Linked DNA regions of Homo sapiens: regions 2 and 3 are each linked to region 1. The links come from fine-mapping of genetic effects on gene expression. A gene starts in region 1. Each other region holds a variant in brackets. All regions are shown on one strand. Distances are between the middles of the regions.

Region 1 (8,185 bases):
TAAGCACCTACTATGTGTCTGGCCCTGTGAACGGTACTGGTGATACAATTTTGAGCAAAAACCAGACATAAACAGTGCTTTCCCCTAAAAACTAGACAACATGTAAAATATTGCATTTCCTTTCACAAGACATAAAGGTCCATCCTACTATTGACACGCTCCCCTGGTTTGACTGGGTTTTTTGCAAGGTTTATCTCATTTCCTTTTATGTCAGCTTTCTAAACTTTATTCCTCATGCATTCTAACAGAATGCTAATCAAGTGCAAAACTATCACTGTGCCACCAAAGGCCACTCGTTAGCAGGACTGACTTTAACGAATTCAGTGAGGTCATCACCTGACATCCACTCCTGTGTGTGGGAGAGGATTCTGATGAAGTTTAGATTACTCAGGGCATTTAAGGCACCTGCAGACAACTAAGATAAACTCAACAAGTAGGGGCTTATAGGGAAACACAGGCATGCTCCTGAAGTTGTACCAGTCTGGGGCAAACAAAACGATCCAGAAGGAAGTATGTTTGTAGAGAAAGAAAACTTTAGCTAAATTACTAAGTTAAACATAGCTAAACTATGTCAAGGGCAGGCTAAATGAATAATAGGGTTTCCTGGAAAACATGCTTGCCTGTTGTCTCTGTCTTCCTCTAAAACTGCAGGACCTAGAAAGACTCCCTTGCATCTTTCACAAACATTTGAGTAGTACCTACGCTGCCAGTATGACTCAAGGAATATAAGACAAAGGAAAAATCAATAGCCCCTTCTCAGGGACCTCCAACTAACCTCAACCCTCTCTCTCTTTCAATTCCTTTCTCTGCATATAACATCTGTTCATTTAATCATGAGATTATGATTAAAGGATCAAGGAGATCCTAGGAAATATACAAAATGGGATGAGAATTTTGGGGAGACTAGCAGAGACTACTTAGGGTTATCAAAATCTGGCAAAGAGCCTGAGCAACAGAGTGAAACACCATCTCTACAATAAATTTAAAAGATAATCAGGTGTGGTGGCATGCACTTGTGGTCCCAGCTACTTGGGAGGCTGAGATGGGAGGATCACTTGAGCCTAGGAGGTTGAGGCTGCAGTGAACTGTGATTGCACCACTGCACTCCAGCCTGGGTGACACAGCAAGACCCTGTATAAATAAATAAATATGACAAAGCAACACTTAGTTCTCTTCCAGCACTGCCTTCCTCTCATAATTGCTAACACTCTTAAAGCAACTACTATTTATTGTCAGGCATTTTTTTATATGTTCTCATAGTCTCATAATAACCATGTAAAGTAAGTGTGATTCCTCTTCAAAAATAAGGAAACCAATGCTCAGAGAAAGTAGCCTGTCCAAGGTCTCAAAACCAATAAGTAATAGAGCAAGGATTCAAATCCCAGTATCAACTCCCAGCCATAAAATTACTAACTTAAAGGATGTTTCATAGTTCCCTAGCTTTAGACAAAGTCTGGCTGAGAGGTTGGTAAGGGCACCTAGAAATGATTTTTAAATTTGATTGTTTTACCAGAAAGACAAGATGGAGGGAATGTCACAAAGGTTACACATCAGTGTGCATAGACAATGATCTACTTTAAGGGCCTTATAAACTTCTGGCTTCCAACTATTCTCCAGACATAAACATAGGGGCTCTGAAGGGTTGGAAAAGGCTTCTAATAAAACTACTATAATGTAACATAGGTGTAAGACAGAACTGGGTTTGTATCCCAACCTAGCTACTTGCTCTGTAGCCCTGGGTAAGTCATTTAACCTGTTATTTTTCTTATCTGTAAACAAGGAATAAAACCTAGACTGTTAGCAGGATTGAATTCACTAAGATAATGCACATAATAAGCACTCAACAAATTATAATCATTTGCATTTTTAATAGATTGAGGCTGACAGGACAAGTGCCGTAGCTACTGACAAGGTAACATAGGAAATTAGAGTAAGGAGTTTAGACAGGGCTGATTTAATTCCCATGACATATTTTCTTTTAGGGATGTGCACAGATATTCCAGCTAAGTCTTGCTGTCAGACACAGTCTAGCTTTGTTTCTGAACTGGCTTCAGCAACCCTGTAGCTAGTCCTGGAAATGATAGAGCCAAATTCTGTTCCAGGGAAAAGCAGACCAAAAGAGACCATACAGAACAGTAGTTACTCTCCTTCAGAGTATGACTGCCTTCAGCCTCAGTCCCTGCTATGAGGTGTTTTTTCAAGCCAATGGCCTCCATACCTCACCCTATAGTCCGTTGCACCTCATCCTGCCTGATAACCTCAGGCTCCTCTCCTTATCTAGCCCCAGGTCTTGGTCTAAGGGCAAACCAAGAACAAAGTCCAGGGCTCCTCCCTACCTAATCAGAGAGATTTACCCCCCAACTTTAGAGTTCAATCTGATAGTCAGTGATACTCACTGGCAATCCTCTTTTTCATTAGAGGGGAATGGGCTGAGAAAATAAGACTAAGCAGGCCCTAGCAAGGAAGAAGCAAGGAAAGCGGGAATATACGGAGTTACAGAGATCTGGGTATGAGCTTAACTGTGTCATTCCTAGCTATGGAAACTTAGGCAAGTCACTTCCTAAGCCTTAGTTTCCTCATGTGTAAAACTGAATACAGTAGAGCCTACTTAGAAGGACTGTCATGAAAACTGAGTAAAGAAGTAGATACAAGACTAAAAATTACTAGATTTTGAGAACTTACTATGTGCCAGATCCTAGGCATGCTAGTTTACTTCACTAAATCCTCACAACAATTCTGTGACATTGGTCTTGTTATCATAACCCCATTTTACAGATGAAGAGCCAAGGCACTGGGTGGTTAAGTAACTCATTCAAGGCCACAAAGTCAGGAAGAGATAGAGCTAGGACTTAAAGTCAGGAAGAGATAGAGCTAGGACTTGAACCCAGGGTATCTGACTCTAGGTCAGAGTGCCTCAACTTTGGCATTACTGACATTTTAGGCAGGATAATTCCTTACTGCGGGGGGGAAGGGCGTATCCCACACATTGTCAAATGTTTAACATAAAACATTATGTTTAATGTTTAATCTACCCACTTGAGGCCAGTAGTATCCCCCACCCTGTGACAACCAAAAAACATCTCCAGACATTGCCTAATGTCTCCTAGGAGACAAAGCCAGACTTGGTTAAGAACCACTGCTTTACAGTCTAGCACAGGACTAAATGCTCAATACCTAAGGGTTCCCTTTTTTTTTTCTGGTGGTTGTTGTTGTTGTTTTGTCTGTCTCCGAGCCCAAACACCTCACTCACAGAGCCACTGCCCCTTCAAGCTGTAATGGATCTTATATAGGATAAATTATTCCACTCATTCCCCTGGAGGTCTCACTTTCTATCTGCTATCGTAGCTTGGGGGTACAGGGAAAAAGGGCTTAGGCAGATGACCTTGAATAGTTCCACTTCTTCTTCCCCAAAGCCTACCACTTTCAGTGGGCCGGGGGACCGGTGGTCAGAATGGAGTTAGTGGCAATACCATACCTGCCTCATGATAACGGATCTTTGTTTAATAAATGAAGAAGATTCTGCCCTTCACAGGGATTACCACACTCCTTCAGGATTATCTGAACTGAAGATTTATCACTTTGTTCCTCAGCACCTGAACTCTGCTCATCTTCATATACTCATCCAGTTTCATACATTACTTTTAGGTCCTTGGGTCCCCTGAACTCCCTCTGTCTCCCATGCAGCGATTTAAGGAAAATCTCTTTAGCAGCCCAAGACACCAATCCACAAATCTACTCAGGGTCCTTTGATTTTATAGCCCAGTTAGGACATCTCCACCCCACGATTCAATCCTCTCCAAACCCTGTCCCCAACCCTCTTACAATTCCAAATTCCAATCTTTGGGGCTGTATATTGCAACCCTCGTCAATTCCTCACTCATATGCCCCAAATCCCTCGGACTCAGATCGTTTAATCCCTATTTCCAAATCTCTGCCACACTCAGCCCCGCACCTCAGTTCAACGCCCCAATTCCTCACCCCAGATTTCTGCTCTCCCTCAATCTGAGCCCCCATCTCCTGCATTCCATCGGGCACTGTGCTGCCCTCATACCCTGCTCCTTCCTCTTATGCACTGAATGTCATGTGCTGCCTTCACACCTCAGCCAGCTCCCTTCTTTCTGCTAACAAGATAGAGTCCCTCAAGAACTCACCCCACCCCCTCAATCTCACCCTCAGCCCACTCCGAAAACCCTTTCTCAATAGCACTTAGGATCGCCCTAGACCTTGCTCCTATCATCTCAGACCCTGTCCTTGCCAGATGCCTAGCGCCCCCAGATTTCCTCAAATCTCATCGGGGCCCCCCAGTTCCTTCATATTTCTGAAATTCTGCACCCAGGTCCCTCCAGGGCCCTGATTCCCTCCCATCTCCCACATGCTACACCCCGTTCCTCCTCAGGGCCCCGACATTACCTCATACCTCCCGAGATGCTGCAACCGCAAATCTCTTCAGAGCCCCTCGCTCCCCTCCCCCAGCTGCATCTCCTCGGATCTCCTCAGCCCCACGAATCCCTCCCGAGCCTGCCCCTCGCAGCCCCACCCCCACCCTAGTCCTGCCCCCCCCAGATCCGGTCCCCACACCCTGCCATTCGGGCGCGGCCGCTGCACGCCGGCACGTTCCCCCGCCTGGCCGCTGAGCCACGGCCCACGACTCCGGCCGCGGTCCCCAGTCCCCAACCCTCCTTCCCGCCCCCTACCTGACCGCCCGCGGCTCCGACGAGTCCACCGCCGGCAGCCCACCCGCCTGCCTCCCTCTGCGCACGCGCCGTTGAGCACCCCTTGCCGGGCGCCAATTCGCAGAGCTCCCTGTCCGTCACTGAGCCCCGCCTCCCCAGCATGCTGGGGCTTGTCGTGCAGCTGGCCCCAAGCGCGCGGGGCAAGGCGGCCCTGCAGGGGTGAGCTTTCCTCTGAGAACCCGGGGCCTTAGCGACACGTAATCCAGTTTTCCGTCTCCTTGGTGCAGATGAAGAAACCGACGCCCATGGGCGAAAGGGACCTGCTCAAGTTCACTCAGTAAGTCAGGAGATAAGCCAGAATGCGTATCTGACTCCAGTCTCAATGTCTACCCCTTCACAAAACGGTAGCCTCCAGGGTAGTCCTCAGCAAAGCGTTGGCACCTTACTGAATCTGTTTTTCCATCTGAGAAATGGGCCAACGGAAAAATCAAACTTCCATTCTGGGGAAGTCGAGAACCGGGACTCCCTAGGAAGGGCAGTGCTTTGGCCTCATGTTCTGTGCTCTGACAGAGAGCTGCACTAGAGACAAGTTTATCCATGAACACATTGCTCTGTAAAGGAATGTTTTGCCTACTCAGCTGGGAGGCCGACAGCAGAGGCAGACTTGGGGAGTACACTCTGCAGCCCCTGTCCCTGCAGACTGAAGGTACCCGGGAACCCAAACCAAGTGTAGTTTTGCTCGGGTGAAGGTGGAGGAATCTTACCAGGTGGGAGGTGATCTGGCCTGAGATTTGAGGGAATCTGGGGCACTAGGCATCTGGCAAGGACGAGGTCTGATACAGGACTGGCTGGCCACGACCTGCAGTCCCTGAAGTAGTTTGGGGCCAATCACCTACTCTCCAAGGTGACTATACTGTACAGCTTAGGAGCACAAAGGAGTTTGAAGTAGGATGGACTTGGATTTGAAATTCCCCTTAGCTATGTGACCCTGCACAATGATAAAACAATAAACAAAAACAATGACTAACATCTTTGAACACTTGCTGTCTGGCTACAGCTGAGGACTTCAGGTGCATAGCTCACTAAATCCTCATAAGGACCTAATGAGATAAGGCAGCTGATGGTTAACCTACACCTGTTGTGTAACCTAGGTGGTTACACAAGGCCACATATACCTAAGTGTTGGAGCCCAAATTTGTACCCAATTCTATCTGAGAACCCACTCTCTTAACCTTGTTTACTCTTTCTCCCCATTTTCTAAATTTCTAATTGAAGTTTGCCATGAAGATAAGCCAAGATTATGGTAGTTTGCACTTAATGATAACTATATTTGAAAAATTGTAATTAGCAGGTAGGGGATAAGGGAGAGGTAATGCCAAATGATTTCTCACTTAGACCAGTTGGGGAGACTTTGCACCCGTTTAAAATTTTTTTTTTTCCTGAAAACCACAGTTATCAGCCCAAAGTATAAATTTAGGACTGTTCATAGTCTTACATATATACATATTATATATGTGTGTATATGTATCAATACAGACATACTGATGTTTCCCTAATTACAGAGGAGTGTTAAAAATACTCCTGGGGATCTAGCTCAAGCAAGTGTCTTGAAAAAAAAAAATCTCTCTTCTCCCTTAAAACAAAAATCAGTGTTTGACTCTTCTTTAATGTTTATTACCAGTTAAATGAATTATTATACCTCTCACAAAATCTTAGAGTAGAATAAGCATTCTAGGAAATGCACTCAATTTTTATCTTATAGCTTGACATATCCTGGCACAATATTAGAATTCCTCTTACACAGAGGCATTTAAAAAATAATCTTTGTGGAGTGCTTTAAACACTCTTTATTCAGCATTTTAATGTAACAGATTTTTATTTAACACTTAAATCACCTATATCAGTGGAACCACCTGAGGAGTTTACCTTGCCCACTGCCTAGACAGAGCTGATTCATCAAGACAGGGGAATTGCAATAGTTAAAGAGTAATTCACGCAGAGTCAGCTGTGCGGGAGACTGGAGTTTTATGATTACTCAAGTCATCTCCCTGAGCATTTGGGGAACAGAGATTTTAAGGATAACTTGGTGGGTTGGGGGAAGCCAGTGAGCCAGGAGCGCTGTTGGTCAGGGATGAAATCATAGGGAGTCGAAGCTGTCTCCTTGCAGTGAGTCAGTTCCTGAGTGGGGGGGCCACAAGATCAGATGAGTGAGTTTATTGATCTGGGTGGTGCCAGCTGATCCATCAAGTGCAGGGTCTGCAAAATATCTCAAGCACTGATCTCAGAAGCATTTTAGGGAGGCTCAGCATCTTGTAACCTCCAGCTGCATGACTCCTAAACCGCAATTTCTAATCTTGTGGCTAATGTTAGTCCTACAAAGGCAATCTAGTACCCAGGCAAGGAGGTCTGCTTTGGGATAGGGTTGTTACTGTCTTTGTTTAAACTATGAACTACAGACTAAATTTCTCCCAAAGTTAGTTCAGCCTATGCCCAGGAATGAACAAGGACAGCTTGGAAGTTAGAAGCAAGATGGAGTCAGTTAAGTTAGATCTCTTTTACTGTCTCAATCATAATTTTGCAAAGGCAGTTTCAGTCCATCACTTTGGGTTTTGTAACACCTTAATCTTAAAGTGTAGGGTATGAAGATGGGAAAAGGCTGTCGATTGCTCTGGGTTCTTCTTGCTGACAGGGGACGTAGTGGGAATGGGAGTCAACCCCAAGGTGAGAAGAGTGGGACCACTTTCAAGTGTCTGAGCGACTCATGCAGGTCTGGCTGGGCTTCTAAGGCTTGCATGGCAAAAACATTAGTACTCTCATCTATAGTTTTAGTACAGTATTTAGGTGAACAGCCTACTATAAGGTAAATAATGAGTCCTAGGATGAGGAGTACAATACTCAATTTTAAAAGCAAAGATTTGAAAGCATTAGTCTGGCGACTTCCAACCCACAAATAATTTAGGATTTAGTCAAAATTGTAGAAAAAACTCAAGGACAGCTAACAACAGCTAACAATAGGTTTCCTCTTGAAGCATAATTTCTCTCTCTCCAGACCCCATTTTTATTAAAAACAAATCATGATAGAACTGATTTGTTTACAGAAATGTACTTTAGTCTTACTATACTTGGCCTGATTATTTGCATAAAGTGCAGCAAGAATAATTATTTTTCACTTAGGGTCTTTTTTGTTTAAATTAGCTTTGATGGAACTCTGTTCCATGAGGAATCTCAGATAAGAGTTTTTAAAAGCCAAGCTCAGCCATGGGTTTGTATCCTCAAATACCTATGAGTTGGGTAAATTCCTCTCTTCTCAAGGTCCCAAAATAACTTGGGGTTCCTGGGCCTGTTAGAAAGTGACATTCTTTACTTACCACAGGTCAGGAACCTTGTACAGGGACTGTATGACAGAACCTTGTACAGGGACTATAGACAAGGTCTGAGGTTAGATTCCCCAGGGGGCTTTAATTGGCTCTATACATTAATTTTGATTCTTTGAAGGAAGCATGCCATTCCAG
Region 2 (8,185 bases), 79 kb after region 1:
AGCTCCTGGATTCATTGATTTTTTGAAGGGTTTTTTTTTTTTTGTCTCTATCTCCTTCAGTTCTGCTCTCATCTTAGTTATTTCTTGCCTTCTGCTAGCTTTTGTGTGTTTGCTCTTGCTTCTCTAGTTCTTTTAATTATGATGTTAGGGTGTCAGTTTCAGATCTTTCTTGCTTTCTCCTGTGGGCATTTAGTGCTATAAATCTCCCTCTACACACTGCTTTAAATGTGTCCCAGAGATTCTGGTATGTTGTGTCCTGTTCTCATTGGTTTCAAAGAACATCTTTATTTCCGCTTTCATTTCGTTATGTACCCAGTAGTCATTCAGGAGCAAGTTGTTCAGTTTCCATGTAGTTGAGCGGTTTTGAGTGAGTTTCTTAATCCTGAGTTCTAGTTTGATTGCACTGTGTTCTGAGAGACAGTTTGTTATAATTTCTTTCTTTTACATTTGCTGAGGAGTGCTTTACTTCCCACTGTGTGATCAATTTTGGAATAACTGCGATGTGGTGCTGAGAAGAATGTATATTCTGTTGATTGGGGTGGATAGTTCTGTAGATGTCTATTAGGTCCGCTTGGTGCAGAGCTGAGTTCAATTCCTGGATATCCTTGTTAACTTTCTGTCTCATTGATCTATCTAATGTTGACAGTGGGGTGTTAAAGTCTCCCATTATTATTGTGTGGGAGTCTAAGTCTCTTTGTAAGTCTCTAAGGACTTGCTTTATGAATCTGGGTGCTCCTATATTGGGTGCATATATATTTAGGATAGTTAGCTCGAAGAAGGTATCTTCTATTTCTAGTCTGCTGCAAAGGCTCTGTTTTGTTTCCATTGGAAACAGATGTTGAATTTTCTGTGTCTATTAAAATGATTGTATAGTTTATCTCTCTAAATTTGTTAATATGATAAGTCACATTGATAGATTTTCATATTATAAAACAACCTACTATGTGAGATTTATCCCAGGAATGTGTAGGTTGTTTTATCTGTTTGTTTTAATTAGGATCATTCTGGTCTCACAAAATGAATTATAAAATATTTTCTCCTTTTCAGTTTTCTGAAGTGTATCTGTCTTCTCAGAGAATCACTGTGGTTAAAATTGATAGTATTTTTTTCTTAATCATTTTTTAGAATTCACCAGTGAAGGCATCTGGGCTTAGACCTTTTCTTGCAAGAAGGTTTTTAACTACTAATTTAGTTATTTAATAGATATAGATTTACTTAGATTATCTGTTTCTTCTTGAGTGATCTTTGGCAGCTTGTGTGTTTTAAGGAACTTGTTCATTCCATGTAAATTATCAAATTTATTGGAAAAAGTTGTTTATGACATTCCGTTACTATTCTTTTGAAATCTGTTGAGATTATAGTGATATTAGTCTCATCTTGATATTGGTAATGTGTGTCTCCTCTGTTTTTTTTCTAGATCAGTTTGGCTAGATAGCTATGACATTTATTTGTATTTTCAAAGAATCAACTTTCGGTTTTATCTGTTTTTGCTTATTGTTTCCTATTTCATTGATTTATCCTCTAATTTTTATTATAATTTTCTTTGTTTGGCTTACTTTGAGTTTGGTTTTCTCCGCATTTTAATTTTTGAAATGGTAGCTGAGGCTATTGATTTGAGACCTTTCTTGTAATGTAGTCATTCCCTCTTAACTACTGCTTTAGTAGTATCTCAAAGATTGTGTTATGTTGCGTTTTCATTTTCATTCAGTTCAAAGTATTTCCAATTTCACTTTTGTTTTCTTCTTTGACTTATGAGTTATTTAGAGGCATGCCACTTCGTTTTCAAATATTTGGGAGTTTTTTCAGAAATTTTTGTTGTTGATTTTTGATTCCGCTATAGTCAGAAAATATGTTTTTATGACTTTAAACATTTTAAATTTATTGAGACTAGTTTTTGGTCTAGATGGTCTATTGCTGTATTCAGTGTTCACTTTAAAATAATGTGTATCCACTTATTTATGGGTATTTTATAAATGCCTGTTAGATAAAATCGGTTAATTATGTTATTCAAGTCTTCTGGAGCCTTTCTGATTTTCTGTCTTCTTGTATCAATATTTGAGAGAGGGGTATTAAAACCTCTGATTATGGACTTATTTCTTCTGCAGTTTTATCATGTTTTATTTTATATATTTTGAAGTTATTGTTATTTAAGTTCATAAACATTTAGAATTTTCATATTCTCTTGATGAATGGATCCCTTTATATTGTGAAATGACCTTGCATATTTCTGTTACATTCTGTTCTGAAATCTACTTTGTCTAAGTACTCCAGCTTTCTTTTGATTAGTGTTAAAGTCTATAATTTCCTATTACTTTACTTTTTTTTTGTTTTTTGAGGCAGAATTTCGCTTTTGTCGTCTAGGCTGGAGCGCAATGGCACAGTCTCAGCCAACACAACCTCTGCCTCCTGGATTCAAGCGATTCTCCTGCCTTAGCCTCCTGAGTAGCTGAGATTACAGGCACCCGCCACCACCCCAGCTAATTTTTGTATTTTTAGTAGAGATGGGGTTTCGCCATGTTGGCCAGGCTGATCTCAAACTCCGGACCTCTGGTGATCCACCCGCCTCAGCCTCACAAAGTGCTGGGATTATAGGTGTGAGCCACCGTCCGCAGCCATCACTTTACTTTTATACTATCATTGCTTTGTATTAAAAGTGTGTTTCTGGAAGATAGTATATAGTTGGATCTTATTTTTTAATCCAAGCTGGCATTATTAACTTTGGGGTGTTTAGACCGTAAAGTTGGGGTGTTTAGACCATTTATATTTAATGTGATATTTGTTTGTTTCTTTGTTAACTATTTATTTTAGAGTCCATGACCTGCTTAATAATGTGATATTTGTATGTTTAGGTTTAAGGTTATCATCTTTCTTTTTTTAAATATTATCCCATCTTTTATTTCTCTTCTTTTTCTATCTTCTTTTGGATAGTTTTTATGATTCCATTATATCTCCTTTGTTGACTTTATTAGCAATAACTCTTTTTTAAAAAAATTTAGTGTTTGCTTCAGGGTTTACAGCATGAATATCTAACATATCACAGTTACCTTCAAGTGATATAATACTATTTCAAGTATAGCATAGGAATCTTATAATAGTATACTGTTCTTCCTCTCTTCCAAGCCTTATGCAGTTTTTGTCATATGTGTTATTCACATATATGTTAAAAATTCCACAATTTATCTTTATTGTTTTTTCTTAATTATTTTTTCGGTATTTAAGTAATAGCATAAATGATTTTATATATTTACCCATGTAGATACTAACTTTGGTACTCTTCATTTCTTTGAGTATCATTCATGTTTTCATCTAGTGTCATTTTCTTTCAGCCTAAAGGATGTCTTTTACTATTTCTTATATTTTGTCAGTTAGTGATGCATGCTTTCTGATTTTGTTTTTGTAAGATATTATTGCTGTGCATGAAATTTTAAATTGACAGATTTTTATCCTAGTAATTAAATATGTTACACTTTGGTCTTCTTGTTTGCATTGCTTCAAATTATAAATCTGCCATCAGTCCTATCTTTGTTCATATATATATATATATATATATATATATACACCCATATATATAATTCATGTATATATGTGTGTGTGTGTATATATATATAGAGAGA[G/TAG]AGAGAGAGAGAGAGAGAGAGAGAGATCCTTTTTTCTGACTGATTCTAAGCTTTTCTCTTTATTAGCCATTTATTTCTTGTGTTTGGGGTTTGTTGAGCTTCTTGGATCTGTGGATTTATGGTTTCATTAAATTTGGAAAATTTTTGGACATTATTTTGTCAATTTAAAAAATCTCCCGCCATTTTTCTTTTCCTCCAACAACATGTATATTCAGTCACTTTAAGTTGTTACTCATCTCAGTGATGCTTTTTTCATTTTCAAAAATTATTTGTTATCTCTGTATTCCATTTTGGATAGTTTCTAGTGCATGTCTTCAATGCCTTCTGTGAAGTGCAATTTATTGTTCATCCCATCCAGCATTATTTTTCGTCTTGGACATTGTAATTTTCACCTTTGGAAGTCCAATGTGAGTCTTGTTAATATATTCTATTTCTTAATTTTTTTTACATATGGGATATAGTTACAGTAACTTTTAATGTTCTTGTTTGCTAATCCTGACAACTGGATCAGTTCTGGGTCAGTTTAAATTGATTGATATTTTTCCTTCTCATTATGGGTTGCATTTTCCTGCCTCTTTGCATGCCAGGTAATTTCGTATTAGATGCCAGACATTGCGATTCTTGCCTTGTTTGAAGCTGGATATTTTGTATTACTAAAAATATTTTTGAACTCTTTTGTTCAAAATATTTTGTTCAAACTCTTTTGTTCAAACTCTTTTGTTCAAAATATTTTGTTCAAACTCTTTTGTTCAAAAGAGTTCAAAAACATTTTGAACTCTTTTGCACAGAGAAACAATTTGATTCCTTTAGATCTTGCTTTTAAGATTTGTTAGATGGAACTGAAGCAGTGTTTAGTCTAGGGCTAATTATTGTCTACTACTAAGGGAGGACCCTTCAGTGTGCTCTACCAAGTTGCCCATAAGTTTTGAGGTTTTACAGTATGGCTGGTAGAGACAGGCACTATTACTGGCCCTTGTATGAGCCTCAGGCATTGTTCTCACTAATCCCTTTGTTTTGGGAGATTTCTCATGTACATACATCAATCAGTACTCTGATGAATGTTGACAGGAACTCCTCCACAGATTGCTTCAATTTTTCCTCTATGCAGCTCTCTCCTCTCCATTACTCTATCTTACGAAGTGTAATCACTTTGGTTTCCCTGGTCTCAGAACTCTGTCTGGGCAATTCAGGGAATCTGTCAGGCATTTCCTCTCCCTGAACAGTGGCTTGAAAACTCTCTAAAGGCAAAGAGAAATTTTAGGGCTCACATAATTTGTTTTCCATCTTTCAGGATCTCTGTACTTTGTTGCCTAATTTCCAGTTGCTGACAAGCTTGTTTTATGTTTTTTTGTTTGTTTGTTTGAGACGGAGTCTCGCTCTGTCGCCCAGGCTGGCATGCAGTGGTGCTGTCTTGGCTCACTGCAACCTCCATCTCCCAGATTCAAGCGATTCTCCTGCCTCAGCCTCCCGAGTAGCTGGGACTACAGGTGCGTGCCACCATGCCTGGCTAATTTTTTGTATTTTAAATAGAGACGGGGCTTCACCGTGTTAGCCAGGATGGTCTCGATCTCCTGACCTCGTGACCCGCCTGCTTCAGCGTGTGTGTGTGTGTGTGTGTGTGTGTGTGTGTGTGTGTGTGTGTGTGTGTGTGTTAATTTCTTAATGGTGTGGGCAGTAGGGCAAATAAATCCAGTCCTTGTTATTCCATTTAATCCAGAAATAGAAATCCAAGATTCTTCTTTATTTTCCAGGAAACAGTGCTCTAATCCAAGAGTTACTTTTTAAAATTGAGGTAAAATTTGTTTATTTTTGGTTATCTGGCCTAGGGTCACTTTACACAGATCTAGGCCCTTCTTCCTGTAGCCATTCAGAAGATTGAAGACAGTGACATACATGCTTCTGTCTTTACAGGGATTTTTTAACCTTTGTTTTAGGACTTGACTTTCATTCTCCACATTATCCAATTCCTGACTTTGTGGGTGGGCAGTTGTTTTTAAAGATACAAGATGATGAATCTTGTATCCTTATATGTTGGGGTTTCCCCACAGTGCCTGTCATACATGGATGTTCAGTTCACTGAACTGAATTGCATATGGTTAGACACATTCATGTCTTAACTTTTCGACTCTGCATTAACTCCTTGAGCACTGTGTAGTTTTATGGGGTCTTCTGTAGTCTTACAACCTAGCTGAGTACATGGTAAGCCTTCTAAAAATGTGTCATGACCAGTTGATGCTGTAGATGATTGGGAGGGTACATCTGAAACATTCACCTCATCTGTTTGCTTCTGTGTCACCTTTATCATGTCTAAACCCTCTGGAAAATGAACTTGGCTTAAATTGAAATTTCTCAGTTCACTCAGTTGAGTTTTATCTTTGAGGATACAAGCCTAATGAAAAAATATGGACTTGGGAAAACCTGGCTTCTGGATTTATTTTTCACCACTTCTCAGTGAGAGAGATCTAGGGGTAGTCAACATCTTTTCTAGGGTTCAGTTTCCTTTTCTGTGGAATGGGAAAAACAGCACCTTTTTCACAAGCTATTTTTAAGGGTTAATTCCAGCACAGTTCTTGAGACACAGTAGGTACTAATACTTTCTTGTTGTTTCCTATTTCCATGAATTAAAAAAAAAAAATTAAAGGGAGGAATAAATGTTAGGAAGAAAACAAAATAAGGTTTAAGACTTGTTTTGGTTAGACAGTTAGGATTACTCACACATTTGGTCAGGTGAGGCCAGAATAGGGAAACATAGGCTTTATCCTTTGATCTCTCTGAATTTTTGCTGGCAGCCAAGTCCAGTGCTGGAATTATTTATTTATCCACGAGCTCATGCGTGCATGTGCACAGGCATAGGTGCTTACACAGATCTCTCTCTCTCTCTTTCTCCCATGTGCACACATGAACACAAACACACACATACACACACACTTTATGGCTGCCATCTGTTTCACACCCTTCTGAACTAACTTTTGAAATGCTCACTCTCCCTCCCTGTCTCCTACCCCTGCCCCCACCTCTAGGTTTGGCGCCCTCTTTGTCTCCTTCAGAGAAGCCATCGCTCGGTCAGTTCCGGGACGCTGTTAGGAAAGCCAAGCATAAGTAGTCTCCTGTTCCAGTTGTTTTGAGCAGAAATGGGGCTTGTTGTGGGGGGTGGCTGAATGCCCCGCACGCTAATCTGTCATCAGTATTAAAAACAGACGTCTGGTTCTCCCTCATGGCCTCATCAGAACAATTGGCATGGGTTTCAGCCTCTTGGGCAGGGTAGATGTGGGAGTAAGAAGCTGGGCCGAGGCACAGGCAGATTTAATAAATCCAAATCTCCTGTTTGACCTACGAAGAAAAAGGCTCAGAGGAGATGGACTTGTCCAGAGCTTACACACATGGTGAGTTACTGGTACAGCCAGAGCTAGAACTAGGGCTCTGGTTTCTTTCCTATCTACTCCCACACCCTCATCCACTACATTCAAAGATTTTTCACTAGTTCATATTACCTCCAGTGTAGTTTGCTCTTGTTGAGAATAGACCTAGAGGCAGATGGAAATAAAGGGATATAGGACACTTGTGTGGCTTGACAGAATGGAGTATCTAGCCACTGACAGCAACTAGTGAGCAACTAGTGAGCTCTGATCTTGTAAAGGGGATTGTAGCCCATCAGGCTTCCCACTTCTTTGTCTGATAAACTAGCTTCTGTGAATCCCTAAAGTTCCAAGTAGAAGAACCTTAAGCATTGAAACCGCCACCCTCAGTGTAAGGATCAGAAGAGTGAGGACAAGAAGGGATAGGTCACACCTAGCATCATAATCTCCTGTTTTTCTGTCTGGTGATATTCTCACCACACCCCCATGCATTTTCTTTGGTCATCTTCTGCTCTCCTGCTGGATTTTTTTTTTAACTTTAAAAAAATCAGAAACTTCTCTTTTTCTTCATGGGATTCTCAGCTTCAGCTTGTTTAGTTCAGGGCTGGAAGGCCATCTGGCTCTGTTGGCACTCACAGAGGCAGCAGGCCCTATCCACTAGCCCCGGCACCTCCTCATACAAGGCAGCAACATCTGGAGCTGGTCAGTGCCCCTTTTCTGCCCTGGCATCTGGGAGCCTACTGGGCCTCTCCCCCCCGATCAGTATCACTCTTGCTTCCTGCCAACTCTCAACTCTTGTCTCTGTTTCTTTCTTCCTATATCCTTTCCTGATTATTTCCTTTCCTCTCTCCTTCCTTCTTTTCTTCTTTTTCTACCTTTATGTGTGTCGGCTTCCCTTGGTGGCTCTCTGTCTCTCTCTCTCTCTTCTTTTTATTCCATGTCACTCTGTGCCCATGTCTCAGCTGACCTTTGCTTGTCTTTGTCTCTCTAAGCTGGCTCTGATATGAGCTGCTGATTTAGACTTACATCCAGGTAAAGGAGAATGTCCAGAGGCCATCTGTATCCACTCTCAGTTCCCCTGTTCTTTCTCTGTCCCTGTTATCATTAAGGATAATCTACAACTGAAAAGACACTCCTCATCCCAACACACACACCATCCCATCTCAGACCTTAGACTGAAAATTTTCTCTAGTAAAAGGGAGCAGTTATGGAGGT
Region 3 (8,185 bases), 21 kb before region 1:
CAAATATAGATGGTGGAAATGGAGTGCCATGGAGAAGAAAAATAATTGCCCAAAGAGAACCATTAGTTAATAATATTAGGACTCAAACAGGATTAGTACTCTCTCTTTCTTCCCCCATCCAAGGAAGTGTGTTGAGTGGCAATTCAAAAGGCCATGTGTCCAAAGGTCACATGGCTGCTAATAGGCAGAGACAGGATTCCATCTCAGGACTGTCTGACTCCCAAGTCCACATGACATGTACTGAGAATTCATTACATGCCAGGAGGTATGCTGGGCATTTATTATCTCCATTTCCTAACGTGGAAACTCACTTGCTCAAGGTCACATTTTTACGTTCGTAACAGCTTTATTGAGATATATTTCATATAACACACAATGAAAGGTATATTTTTGAGCCTTCTCTTCCAATGGTGACATTGCACCAAAACAAAGTTCGGGTTGAGTCTAGAAAGGAACGCAACTTTCAATTATTTTACAGTTGAGAAGATTCTCTAAGGAAAAGCAAATCAGAGGGAACCACTCCTCCCACCTTTCAACCATACCCCACTTTCTATTGCAGCTAGACTTAATGATTCAGGGATGCAGGTACTAGGAGAAGCAGGAGGTGGCATAACCAGCTGATGCTAATTGTGACCCAGAGTGCTCACATATGTCAACATATGAGCTAAGCTGACCTCTGGTTTTATTCAGCAACAATTATAGTGCCTACTATGTTTCAGGTACTGTGCTAGATGCTATGGATGCAGCAGTAAATTAAATATTGCCTTGCCTTCAGAGAGCTCATTTTAGTCTTGGAAAAAGATATTTAATGAGAAAAATCACCATGAAATATGTAAATGCTAGAGGGAGAAATATAAAGTGTGGCATGAACACCTGGCTCAAAACAGTTAAGGTGGATCCAAAAGGGCATTCCAGAACACTTGAAGAAGGTAAGATTTAGGCCAACACAGGTGGGTATGGAGAAGGTAAATGTTCCAAGATGCAAGAAAAGCATGTACAAAAATGTCCCTGAGATAAGAAAAAAGAAATTGTGGATGGAGCAAAGCTCTAGAGGGGATGGAAGTGGTGGTAAGATAAACCTAGAAAGATAGATGGACAGGAATCAAATCCCACTGGGATGTATAGACCATGTTAAGAAAGTTGTACCTTTGCTAGGAGCACTTAAAGGTCATTTAAAGGTTTTGTATATTATCATTAGCATTTGCATTTTAGAATTTGACTCTGGCTAGTGTGGGATAGGGCTTGACTTGGGATGGGAGGAAGTATATGTGAGATGCTAGATTAGAGTTAGGAGGATCAGTTAGGGAGTTGTAGTAGTGTTTCAAGGAGAAAAATAATAGCTTAAAATTTAGCAGCCATGAGGATTCAGAAAAAAAATTAATGTATGTGAAAAATATTAAGTGGCTAGAATGATGAGAACTTCATGATGGGACAGTAGAAGGTGAAAGGTGAGGAAAATGATTAGACATGGTGCCAAGCTTTCTGACTTAAGGGCCTGAGTGACTGCTGGAGTTCCTTAGGTGAAATAAAAAAGGAGCAGCAGGTATGGTAGAGCCAAGTTCAGTTTTGAATATACTGAGTCTAAGATTCCTAAGGTATATACAACTGGCAATATAAAATGGGCAGCTGGGTATACACCAATCTGGTGATCAAAAAGAAGGTAAGACATGAAAAATACAGTTTGGTATGTAGCTGCATACATGATTGAAGTCATAGAAAAAGATGGTATCGTCCAGAAGAAAAATAAATGTTCCCTTTTGCAATTTGTTTTCTTAAGCTACTTTCCTGCTGCCATACCTTGTATTATTTCTGACATTTTATTTAGAGACATTTTATTTCATTCAGAGAGGCTGACTATGCTGCTCATTTTTAGGCAGCTTTTACTTGTGTAAAATGTTATGGGGCATTGAAGAGTAGTTGTAGTACATATTAAATAGGCTGGAGTTAATATGCCCATTTCATTGAGGAGAATAAATAGGCATAGTCGCCAGAGCAGAAAGGAGGAATACACACTTTCAGGGTTGTTGCTTGAGCATTTGCACCTTACATTTAGCTAATTAGCCTTCTATGCAGGGTCTACGGTATATTTGCCTATTTGTATGTGGCCTTTCTTCCAGTGTATCAATTAATGGAAGTTTCATTCTTCTATATCCAGTCCCTGAGTCTTGGATCAGGCAAGGTAATATGCATGTCTAATGCCTTTCCATCCTTTCAGGCCATGACATTCTTCATTTAACTTCATTTCTTACACTTTTACAGAATCATTAAATGTGTCAAACAAGTTTCATATCTTGGGGTCTGAGAGATTTAGAGATTTATTACTAGTTTTAAGTTTAAATATTAAACGTCATTTCACAAAACACATGGCTTTATTCATGTGGTTGCTCAGAACTTACAAAATTTTCTTTCTTTTTTCTCTTCTTTTTTTTTTTTTTTTTTTTTTTTGAGACGGAGTTTCACTCTTGTTGCCCAGGCTGGAGTGCAATGGTGTGATCTCAGCTCACCGCAACCTCCACCTCCTGGGCTCGAGTGATTCTCCTCCCTCAGACTTCCCCGAGTAGCTGGGATTACAGGCATGCGCCACCATGCCTTGCTAATTTTGTATTTTTAGTAGAGACAGGGTTTCTCCATGTTGGTCAGGCTGGTCTCAAACCCCCGACCTCAGGTGATTCCCCCCTCCTTGGCCTCCCAAAATGCTGTGATTACAGGCGTGAGCTCACTGCACCTGGTCTGAAATTGTCATTTATCGTAATATGAAATTTCTTTCAATATTTAACTCTAAACATCTGTTGTCACTCAGAAGTAGTGGGATGTACCCCCACCCAACATTTGCTTCAGATGTTGAGGCTGATGATACCACACACACACACCAAGAAGATATGAAAAGATGTATCACTCACATAATGAAGCTTTCTAGGGAGAGCAGAGGGAGCTTCCAAACAGGTCCAAACATGGTTTGAGAAAGCAGGGAAAGGAGACTGGCTTGGATTGGGAGGTGAGGGGTGTAGGGTAAGGTTGGGGAGGTTCTCATATATTATCTGGGGCTTGCATGGATTGAGCTTCCCTCTGGCACCAAAGGTAGGCCTACCTAGGCTTCCCTATCAGTTTTCCCAGATGTGAAGCTGAAGAAGAGGGAGTAAGTAGAAGAATTTGAAAGTTGTTAGCAGTCAAGTACCAAAAATGGAGTCAGAATCTTTATTACGATTCATCCCTGATATTTGACTGATGACTGAAATGTGGCATGTTTCATTTAATTGAACTTGAACTTGTTTAGGTAAAATAAACCATTATGGCTTTCTATGAGGCCTGCAGCCTGAGGCTGGTAAGGGAGGTGAAAGTTCCATTAAATGCCTTGTACAAGAGCCCAATATTATGTATTTTGAGATGTGAAATGAATGCCTTAGTCACTATCAATAATTTCTAGACTACTGAAGGGGTTAAAGTGTTAATGAGGCCTTTTATTGTGGATTTATTGTGAGTAGAAATGACCTTGACTTATACTTTGAGTATAAGTATATATATATGAGGCAAGAGAGTCACAGAGTTATTTAACCCAAAGAGGCAACCTTGGATAGAAAACTGTTTTTGCTGCTATTGGCTGGAGCAGATGAGCAAATCACTGGCAGTGGTTCAACAGTCTATAGAACTGTGCAGATGTTGGTCAGGGTATTCAGTGCTAAAAGGACCGCATAAAGTTTGGCCAGTTGTGCTGACTTGGGTCCTGTTTCATTATCAGGGATGTCCCAGTTATGGGCTAAAAATCAGGAACTTTCCAGCAAGCTCCATCACATACAATGGTAGTGATACCATCTATAAAGTGGAGAAACTCCCTTTACTCTTCACTCTGTTGATTGCAAGGGCTTCCACAGATATCCAAAGGGTCTGGGAAGGGGGATGACTTTTACCAGCACCATGGTATTTAGCAAGGGGCTGAGGGTGGTGGTGGGAGACTTTTTCCTATAGGTGAAATATGCCAGGTTTGGCTCTATGCTACAGCAAGGAAACCTCAGTGGCTATGTTGAACTTTTAGGGTGTGATTTCAAGACCCAAGGGATAATGGGCAGCTGGTATGGAGAGTCACAGGCTGAGGGCCGGTGACAACCAGCCTGTTTCCAGGAGAGTCCAATATGCAGCCAGCAATTGCACTCTAATGGCATATAGCATGGGGCTGAAGGGACAGTTTATGGCACAAGATGCCTGTGGGCAACTTAGGGCCATCAAGTGTGGGCCAGAGACTTCAGGAATCATGGGAGGAGGTTGCTAAAGCCTTTAAGTAAAGGACTCTCAGGGGTCACTAATTGCAGTGCCTGTATTATAATTCATAAGTGAGCTTAAGTAATAGTATAAACGGGTTTAAGTAAAATTTGTAAATGAGAAATATGCTGTCTCCAGAACTCAAAATAGACTAAAACATATTGGGCTTTTAAAAAAATTGCGAATGCTGTTTCTGGCAAGTGTCAGGGATAGAATGGCCCTCAGCTAAATAGCTTTCAGGAAT[T/G]TATCCAAGGTGGAAGGACTTGGTAATTTGTGTGGGGTAGTGGTCCATCCCTTTTTCGTGAGCTCTTTTATGATTATGACTATATGTGTCCTCAGTGAGTGTGCCAAATGAACCTTCTTGGAGGATGATGTGATCAGTATGATCAGTGTTTACTGTGCTCCTGAAGAAAGTTAAATGTGGTCAAGATCTTGTCTGCAGGCTGTGTGAAGACCTGGCTGTTGTTATCCCATGAGTAGCTGAGTAAAAGGATACTGCATCCCTTTGATGGTGAAGGCAAATTGTGGCTGAGTCGCTGCTAAAATATTAGCCAAATCTATGAATTAAAAGTATTTACCAGTTGTTGATTAAAGTTAGTAATTTTGATAATATTTGATATGGGAGCCTTATTGGATAGAACTTCAGCATTAACATGGCAATAATCTACTGTGAGATGCCATTCATTCTTTCTAGGTTTCTGAACAGGCTACATTGGGCCATTAATGGTGAAGCAGTGGGGATAGTCACTCTTCTCCAAATAGGTCTGGTATATGGGTTTCAAACCTCAAAGACTCTGTTTTAATTTAAATTGGGCCATATTAACTATTTTAACTAACGGAGGAGGGGAAGGTCCATGCCGTCCCATTTTGGCAAGCTGATTTGTAAGTGCCAAAGACTTAATTCAATTTTAATTTATTACTCATTGGGTTAGAGCATCCATGCCCACTATGGGATATTTTAAGTTAATGGGTGCTATGGCTATGGGGGAATTTAGGCAGGGCAATAGTTCTGATTAAGATGAGGCATATCTATTTGTCTTCCTAACATGTCCTAAAATATCCTCAGTTAACTACCCTAAGATTATAGGGGTACTTTGTTTAAATTTAGGGGAATTCCAGGTATAATTTGAAGCCCAATATTAAGGCTATGAAGGGTTGACAACTGGTGCATTTCAGCAAATGTTAAAAGTTAATTCGGAACCTAGGTTGTAGAGGTACAAAAGCCAAATAGTAACCTTTTATCTTGTTTTGTTGTTGTTGCAAAAATTCTTTAATTTTGGATTTCCAATTGGGTCAAATTGTGAACCTCTGTTTTAGTTTTTTGTTTCTTTCCCCCAGTATCCAAGTTTATTTTATTTTCCTTTTGGTGGCTACCGTATATCATTTGGTGGTGGTGTGGGGAGGGGTTGGGGAGGAGGGAAGGTCCTCTCGATCCTGCTCATATGTGTAAGATTCTTCCTCCAGAGTTGCAAATACATATAATCAGGATTAGGTTCTCTCCCGTGCCAACAGTTGCTTTATAGGGTTTGAGGACCCAGTGCTTAAGTTGGCTTTGAAAGAACTCCTTGGCTATAGCATGGATGCTTTTCCCTATAACCCTTAGGATCAGGAATTTTTTTTTTTTTTTTTTTTTTTTTTTGGTCAGGGGGCATAGTGGCATAGGGCATAGGCAGAAGTAGGAAGAAAGGCATTTTGTAAAGTCCTAGTAAACCATCTGCTTTTGGGAGTGTGCACCATAGCATTCAACATGGTCTTCGTCCATGAGTGACTACCAACCAGCCTGCATATTGCATAGGGTATGACTGTTTCTTTTGAGTACGCCATACAATGAGGGCAACACCTGGTTGAGATAAACAACCAAAAGTCACAGGGTAAGAGTCATTCCTCTGAGCCTCGTGACAGTCACAGCTGACACTGGGATCCAGAAACACAATTCAGAGACACAGGTAAGTCTCGACCAAGACACATGACCCAGGGCCACTTTAATCTTGTTCTTAAATGCCACTTTATTCTTGTTCTTAAATGCCAATTATCAAAAATTCCAACTTAGCTGAGCACATCTATAACAGAAGCTTGGTAAGGCTCAGTGAACGCAGTACAAAGCAGCACAGCACAAAGCATGAGCTTGCCAGCAGTGACAAAAAAAAAAAAAAAAAAAAAAAAATTCTAGCCAGCAAGAGTCAGTTAGCAAACTAAAGCAAGAGGAGAGCCCTGCAGTGGTAGTGGTCATCTCCTAGACCCTCTGCTTGTTGCATAAAGTGTTTAGTCATCCCACAGAGGAGAGGTTGAACCCCTTACCCAAAACTTGGTTTAGGTGTTAGGACTGATGTTACATTAGGACCAAATAGATATGAAAAGGTTTATCACTCACACGAGGCTTTTACAGAGAGCAGCGAGTTCTCAAGCAGGTCCAGAAATGGCTTGAGCAGGGAAAGTAGAGGAGCCTGGCTTTTCCTAGTGGCTTGGAGGTAGGGCTGCAGTGAGGATTCTTAGGTGGTTTGAACTTCCACCAGGCACAAAGGTGGAAGCATTTGAGCTTTCTTACTGGCATGTCCAGATATGGGGCGGAAGGGGGAATAATAGGTTTTAAAAACTCAGCCAGTCAGACATCAACAAATGAGTCTGACTGTACTACAAAGTTGTACTAAGATTACAGCACTTATTTGGCGTAGGCTTCTGAGGGGAGAAAAATTTGATATTATTTCAGAATTTTTAAAGGACAGAAAATGTATTTCTGAGACAATGTCAATCAGTGATTCCCCATCAGGAGAGATATTAGAATACCGAAGAGGGTATGCATTTTCAAACTATGCCTTTGCCCTCCACCCTCAGGACTCTAAGGAGATTCTGATTCATACCCTACCACCTCTATAAGTATGAAGCCTCACTGAGCCATGGGTACTGTTGGCAGTAAGTCATATAAACTAGGGCAGAAAAAAAAAGAACCATTTGAATTATTACTTAACCACTTTAGACCTTTGAATTTCTTTAATGTCCCCTCATTCTGGGGTGGTTTTAACTTCTGGCACCAACTTCTCACTCTTCATCCTAATCTTGTACCTTTGTTCACGATATTCCCTTTACTTTTAAGGCCCTTCAGCAACCAGATCTTCTCAGCAGTCTTTACTCAAACACTTGGCACTCCATTTCTATCCTGTTACCATTTATCTTACTCTCTTGTATTTTTTATTATTTGTTTACATACCTTATCTCTGCAGCCAGACCACAAGCTACTTGACTACAAAATTCATGACTGATTTTCTTTGCATTCATTACTCATATTAAGTATTGCTAATAATAATAAAGGGTAGATGTCTTATATATGTTTAATAAGTGAGTGAATAAATGGAATCTCAGGTTTTGATATTCTTTCACAATATGCAATGCCATTATAGTTATAACCAGGTAAACTGGGTAAATCACCACAAGAAAATCCTGGTTTTATCTGTATAGGGAAAACATGCATTTGACTTATATACATTCACACAAACTCTTCATGGTTTCAATCAAGATTTCAGTGAGTTAGTAAATAATTTTCCTTTGCGGTTGCAGGGGTTAGACTTTCCCTTACCAGTTTCATATCATCTTTATATCACAAAAATGAGGTAATTTCAGATATATTTGGTTTACTGTAATTTCAAAAATGCTTTTTATTCTGCTAAATGGCATTTATATATCCATCATCTCTTCACAATACTGCAATAAAATGTGAAACAGTCATTACTAGTGAGAAAACAGACTGAGAGGTTAAGTGACTTAATGGTCATAGAGCTAATAATTGAGGGAAACAGGACTAAACTCAGGACTCCCTGCTTACAAAGCTCAAGCTTTAACCACTTAACAGGGATATTTGTGGCTTACTTTTATTTTTATAATTATTTGAGTTAATAAATTTTGACCTAGAGAAAAAATTCTTTGAAGCTAGCCATCT

Alleles and levels. Alleles are on the strand shown, and positions count from the first base shown. SD is a standard deviation of normalised expression in the study named. Not every link is listed here.
As copies of TAG replace G in region 2, the expression in monocytes of the gene that starts at base 4,771 in region 1 goes down (large effect, 0.91 SD a copy in BLUEPRINT).

Evidence for each region.
Region 2: its variant is fine-mapped to the expression of TRIM32 in monocytes (BLUEPRINT, PIP 0.95).
Region 3: its variant is fine-mapped to the expression of TRIM32 in monocytes (TOPMed, PIP 0.96).

What each region holds. Positions count from the first base shown.
Region 1 is chr9:116,683,891-116,692,075 of GRCh38, reverse strand. TRIM32 (tripartite motif containing 32) reads right to left here and starts at 4,771. Exons shown (of 2, transcript NM_012210.4): 1 at 4,695-4,771. The region is part of intron 16 of ASTN2 (astrotactin 2); the gene reads left to right. RefSeq lists enhancers at 4,295-4,344, 4,785-5,104 and a silencer at 4,515-4,714.
Region 2 is chr9:116,604,752-116,612,936 of GRCh38, reverse strand. All of the region lies in intron 19 of ASTN2 (astrotactin 2), which reads left to right. The region is part of intron 1 of LOC105376240 (a long non-coding RNA gene); the gene reads right to left. Among named protein-coding and RNA genes, the nearest start is that of TRIM32, 78 kb to the left of the region's middle. The variant G/TAG (reference allele first, on the strand shown) is at 3,615.
Region 3 is chr9:116,704,994-116,713,178 of GRCh38, reverse strand. The region is part of intron 16 of ASTN2 (astrotactin 2); the gene reads left to right. Among named protein-coding and RNA genes, the nearest start is that of TRIM32, 22 kb to the right of the region's middle. The variant T/G (reference allele first, on the strand shown) is at 4,499.